2 separate regions of the Homo sapiens genome follow, and region 1 is linked to region 2. The links come from fine-mapping of genetic effects on gene expression. A gene starts in region 2. The other region holds a variant in brackets. All regions are shown on one strand. Distances are between the middles of the regions.

What was found.
Region 1: its variant is fine-mapped to the expression of TRIM71 in monocytes (TOPMed, PIP above 0.99). The same link has a PIP of 0.9 or more in blood mononuclear cells.

The regions. Positions count from the first base shown.
Region 1 is chr3:32,900,226-32,903,132 of GRCh38, forward strand. No RefSeq gene overlaps it. Among named protein-coding and RNA genes, the nearest start is that of CCR4, 50 kb to the right of the region's middle. RefSeq lists silencers at 2,658-2,737, 2,779-2,907. The variant A/C (reference allele first, on the strand shown) is at 1,412.
Region 2 is chr3:32,816,699-32,819,605 of GRCh38, forward strand. TRIM71 (tripartite motif containing 71) reads left to right here and starts at 1,299. Exons shown (of 4, transcript NM_001039111.3): 1 at 1,299-2,234. The coding sequence starts at 1,383. RefSeq lists an enhancer at 1,759-2,340.

The DNA.
Region 1 (2,907 bases), 84 kb after region 2:
GGTTCCACAGACCATATGGAATACTTGTGTTCCACAGACGAGTGGCTGCGTGGAGTATGTGCGGGTTCCACGGAGCGGCCGAATGGAGCATGCGCTCCACTGGTAGCTGCGGGCGGTCCTGAAAGCAATCTCCCGTGGTGCCGAGGGATGGCTGTATTTCACTGCATCTAAGTGAACTGTTAGATCTCTCTTCACCTCCCATGACCACAGGCAGTATCCTAGTATTCCTGATGGCAGGAAGTGTCATCAGCCTGGATCTGGGAGAGGCTGACACAAGAGCAGCACGCCAGGCAACCAGGAATGCACATGTGATAAAAATGTATACACTTGTTGTGTGTTTTTTATGTTTTAAAAATTAGTTCAATGAAGTACAGTAGGGAAATTGTCAATAATTTATTGTAAATTTCAAAATAAAAGATTTGTATTGTTCCTAGCACAAAGATAAATATTTGAGGCGATGGATATCCGAAGTACACTGATTTGATAATCACATGTTATACAAGTTTCAAAACTCATATGGACCCCCAAAATATGTCCAACTACTATATATCAATTTTTAACTTACAAAAATTGAAACTTGAAAAACAACAATATTAAAGAAGCGAAAGCATAAGCCTCAGAATGGGAGAATATAAAGGTATAACTAATAAAGGATTGCCATCCAGAATATTTAAAGAACTACAATAAGGAAAACATACCCCAATTAAAAACAACGAGGCAAAGGGTGGGGTTAAGTTATTTACCGAGCTCAACTACCCTAGAACTCAGGGAAATACAGACCAAAGCAACAATAAGATACAATGTTATACTCATCCTTTGGATAGAAATAGGAAAGTCTAATTATAGCAACTGTTGGTGAGAAATGGGAACTGTCCTACACAGCTGGTGGGAGTGAAAAGGAGTACAACCTGTTTGCAGGGGAATTTGTCAATACCTAGTAAAGGTGAAGATGTACACATACACACGGATCCAGTAATTTCACCTCCAAAATATGCTGTGGAGAAATTCTAGCACAAACAACAGCATAAGAAGACTTAAAACAGTCGCTGCCTGGTTGTCTGGAGTACGTAATGCCAAGTATCTTGTCAGTGGGGAGATAGAAGAGTACATTTGATATATTTATTCAGTGCAAGTTAAAGTGAATGGGGACGCTACATGTGTGTAGGTACATCTAAAAATCATTGGGTGAAAGAAGTTCTAGTATGATTTTACAGTATACCTTTTACATAACATTTGAAAAAAAGTACAAAACAAGACTACATATTTGCTATAGATTTGACTTGTTCGACGAGCATTAAGTGGCTAGGTGGATGGCATGTGGTGGGACTTCTTGCTAGAAGAGGAAGCTGTAAAAGTGAGCCCAACCAATTTCTTTATGGTTACTAAAAATGCAGGTTGAGCAAGTAGATTA[A/C]GAAAGCCTCAGAACTTTGTTTTCCCTCTTCCTCCCTTTATGACTTGCTCATAAAACATGACAATAGGAGACAAATATGAAAACAATGAGGACAGAAATCTGTGTTTCTAGAAAGAATGGAATGGGTATAAAATGGGTATGAAGCGGTAAGAAATTGCCTTTCCAGGACAGACAAGCAACTGCCCCCACCTCACCCCCACCAACACTTCCTTTTCCTCAAGACATGTTGAATGTTTTGTTTTCTCTACCTTTAACAACCATCTTTGTCCCTAAGTATATAGCAATAGACTTTAAAAATGCATTTCAGGCCGGGAATCTGGCCCGGCGTGGTGGCTCACACCTGTAATCCCAGCACTTTGGGAGACCCAGGTGGGTGGATCACCTGAGGTCAGGAGTTCAAGACCAGCTTGACGAACATGGTGAAACCCTGTCTCTACTAAAAATACAAAAAAATTACCTAGGTGTGGTGGCTGGCACATGCATGTAATCCCAGCTACTCAGGAGGCTGAGGCAGGAGAATTGCTTGAATCTGCAAGGCGGAGGTTGCAGTGAGCCTAGATGGCGCCACTGGACTCCAGCCTGGGTGACAGTGAGACAACGTCTGAAAAAAAAAAAAAAAAAAAAAAAAAAAAAAGACTTTCATGTCTCCCAAGCAACAATCCAAATTTTTAAAATTTAATTAATGAGGACTAGAATAAAACACTGGAAGCATATACTCTGGTGGAATATTCAGACAATTCAACTTTTAGAGACTAGCATTTTTTTGGTCTAGGTATACTTTACACACAATAAATTTCACACATTTTAGAACATGGTTCTGTGAATTTTGACAAAAACACAATCACATAACCAACACAACAAGCACCATCAGGGCAGAAAAGCCAACTTGGCTTCCTAAAGGAGACAGAAACGAATGTCTCGTTAGTTTCATGGTCATTATCCATGAGATTGTAATACATGCTTAACCTGTCAAAATGAGAGGTGACAGCGTGCTGGCAGTCCTCAGAGCCCTCGCTTGCTCTTGGCGCCTCCTCTGCCTGGGTTCCCACTTTGGCGGCACTTGAGGAGCCCTTCGGCCCGCCGCTGCACTGTGGGAGCCCCTTTCTGGGCTGGCCAAGGCCAGAGCCGGCTCCCTCAGCTTGCAAGGAGGTGTGGAGGGAGAGGCGCGAGCAGGAACCAGGGCTGCGAGCAGCGCTTGCGGGCCAGCTGGAGTTCTGGGTGGGCGTGGGCTTGGCGGGCCCCGCACTCGGAGCGGCCCGCCGGCCCTGCCCGCCCCGGGCAGTGAGGGGCTTAGCACCCGGGCCAGCGGCTGCGGAGGGTGTACTGGGTACCCCAGCAGTGCCGGCCCACAGGCGCTGCGCTCAATTTCTCGCCGGGCCTTAGCTGCTTTCTCACGGGGCAGGCCTCGGGACTGCAGCCCGCCATGCCTGAGCCTTCCCCCGCCTCCATGGGTTCCTGTGCAGCCCGAGCTTCCCCGACGAATGCCGCCCCCTGCT
Region 2 (2,907 bases):
GGGGCGCGCGCGCGCGCACGCAACCCGAACTGGGGGAGTTGTGCAAAGCCCCAGGAGGCCGGGGCACGGCGGGAGCAAAGCTCGGTAGGCGCAGCGCGGCCGAGGCCACCCGCGTCCGGATCGGCGACTCCTTTCAGAAAGAAGATGACGCGGGCGCGAGCCGGCGGCGTTGGCCACGCGGCTCCCGAGCTCGCCGCGCGGGGCTGTTGCCGGTTCCACTGATTCCAGCGCGCCCGAGAGGAGCCTCCATCCCCGAGGCTCGGGATCGGAGGGGGGACCAAGGCGAGGGCGAAATGGCCCGATGACAAAGGAAATGTGATCCCCCTTCTCTGCCAAGGTTTCAGAGAGGACGGACGTGAGGAGGAGGAGGGGCGCAGGGCGCGCGCGGAGCTCGGATAGCATTGCACGACGGCCCGCGCGGAGCGGGTACATCTAATATCTTCCTGCCGATGAATAATTCAGGGCGGCCCGCGGGGACCTGCGGCCCCGCGCGCTAAGCCGAAGGGGAAGGAGCGTGCGTGAGGCGCCCAGGCCAGGCGAGGCGGGGGCACGAGGGCTCCGGGCCGCGTGGGGCGCGCGTGCGTGTTAAGCGCGGGCAGCCGCGGCCCGGCTGGGCAGGCGCGCGGAAGACTCGAGGCGCGTGGGACGCGCGTGCGTACTGCACGCGTGCGGCCGCGGCTGGGCCACCACGAGCTGCAGCTGCTGCGGGGCCCACCGCCCTGCAGGGGAGGCCGTGCCTGGCTGTGCGCAAGCCCCAAGCGCAGCACGCCGGGCCACCCAGGAGCCCCTGGCCGCCGCGTCATGCGGCGGGGCAGCCGACGTCGCGCGGGGAGACACCGGCTTGGCGACGCACCGCTCCCGCCTTTACTAGTTTGGGGCTCCTTCCCCTCCCAAGAACAGACTAAATCCGTTTAAAGAAAAGCAACGCACCAAATACTCGTGGAACCAAATTCTGCTCTCGCCGGGACTGGGACTGCACAGCGAACTCTCCTTTTGGGAACTCCTTTCGTCTATCGCGAAGGGAAGCCTCAGCTGCTCCAGGGAGTCTTCCGACCTCCCTGCCCCCGCTCGCCCCTCGCCTGTCGGGGCTTGTTCCGGCGTTCCCTCTTCGGAAGGCACGCGGCCCCCAAGTTATCCGGAGGAATCTGTGTCGCCGCTGGATAGTGGCATTTAATGCCTGCAGTGTCGGGGGTGGCAGCGCTCGGGCCGGACGTGGCGAGGCCAAGCGGGCAGCGCTGCTCTGGTGCCGGCTCCCGGATTGCAGGCCTAATCGATGCATTTTTCTGAGTGAGTCGGTGACTCCCCCACCCACCTCGTCCGCTCTCTCCTCCTCCTCCTCCTCTTCCTCTCTGGTCTCCTCCCTCCTCCGGGCTGGGTTGCAAATGGCTTCGTTCCCCGAGACCGATTTCCAGATCTGCTTGCTGTGCAAGGAGATGTGCGGCTCGCCGGCGCCGCTCTCCTCCAACTCGTCCGCGTCGTCGTCCTCCTCGCAGACGTCCACGTCGTCGGGGGGCGGCGGCGGGGGCCCTGGGGCGGCGGCGCGCCGCCTACACGTCCTGCCCTGCCTGCACGCCTTCTGCCGCCCCTGCCTCGAGGCGCACCGGCTGCCGGCGGCGGGCGGCGGCGCGGCGGGAGAGCCGCTCAAGCTGCGCTGCCCCGTGTGCGACCAGAAAGTAGTGCTAGCCGAGGCGGCGGGTATGGACGCGCTGCCTTCGTCCGCCTTCCTGCTTAGCAACCTGCTCGACGCGGTGGTGGCCACTGCCGACGAGCCGCCGCCCAAGAACGGGCGCGCCGGCGCTCCGGCGGGAGCGGGCGGCCACAGCAACCACCGGCACCACGCTCACCACGCGCACCCGCGCGCGTCCGCCTCCGCGCCGCCACTCCCGCAGGCGCCGCAGCCGCCCGCGCCTTCCCGCTCGGCACCCGGCGGCCCTGCCGCTTCCCCGTCGGCGCTGCTGCTCCGCCGTCCTCACGGCTGCAGCTCGTGCGATGAGGGCAACGCAGCTTCTTCGCGCTGCCTCGACTGCCAGGAGCACCTGTGCGACAACTGCGTCCGAGCGCACCAGCGCGTGCGCCTCACCAAGGACCACTACATCGAGCGCGGCCCGCCGGGTCCCGGTGCCGCAGCAGCGGCGCAGCAGCTCGGGCTCGGGCCGCCCTTTCCCGGCCCGCCCTTCTCCATCCTCTCAGTGTTTCCCGAGCGCCTCGGCTTCTGCCAGCACCACGACGACGAGGTGAGTGCGTGGGGGCGTGTGTTTGTGTCCATCGGATAACTGCGTGTGTGCTCAACAGCGTTTCCCGGCCGGTCCCACAGCGAGGGGAGGAGGCCCTCTCCGGATTTGGTTTGTATTTCCTTTGGCTACGTGGCAGTCCTTGCTACCAAAGTAGATCATGACCTGGGAAGTATGTGGAAGTGGATTCTGTGTACGTGTCGCGAGGGGCTCCGAAAAATCCCATAGCGTGGGGTCCTCCCTTTTCTGATTTTAATTTCTGTGTGGCAAAACGCGGCAATCGTCTTGAGTTAGGCGTGAGTTGGGAGGAGATAGGTGTGTGTGTTTGTGTAGACGTGGCCTGCTCCTGCTCTTGTGGGCACACCAGAGGCCTCCCAACGTGCTGAGAAGGCGCTCCTTTATTTTCAGATTTTTGTTTGGAAAACTCATAGATTGTTGCCTTTAAAATGGGGCGTGAGCCCGGAAGAGATGGTTGTGTGGGTGAGTGCGTGGAGTTTGTGTGCCTCCGTAGACCTGGTTTCCACGTGCGCACTTGTGAGGGGAAGACTGGTTTTTTTGTTGTTGGGACAGCATGGCAGTCCTTGCCTCCTTATGTTGGGTAAGAGTGGGAGCGTCTGTGGATCTTTGAGGGCCAAGGGCCCCCAGTCTTAAGCCCTTCTCTCTCTGCGGCTGCTTC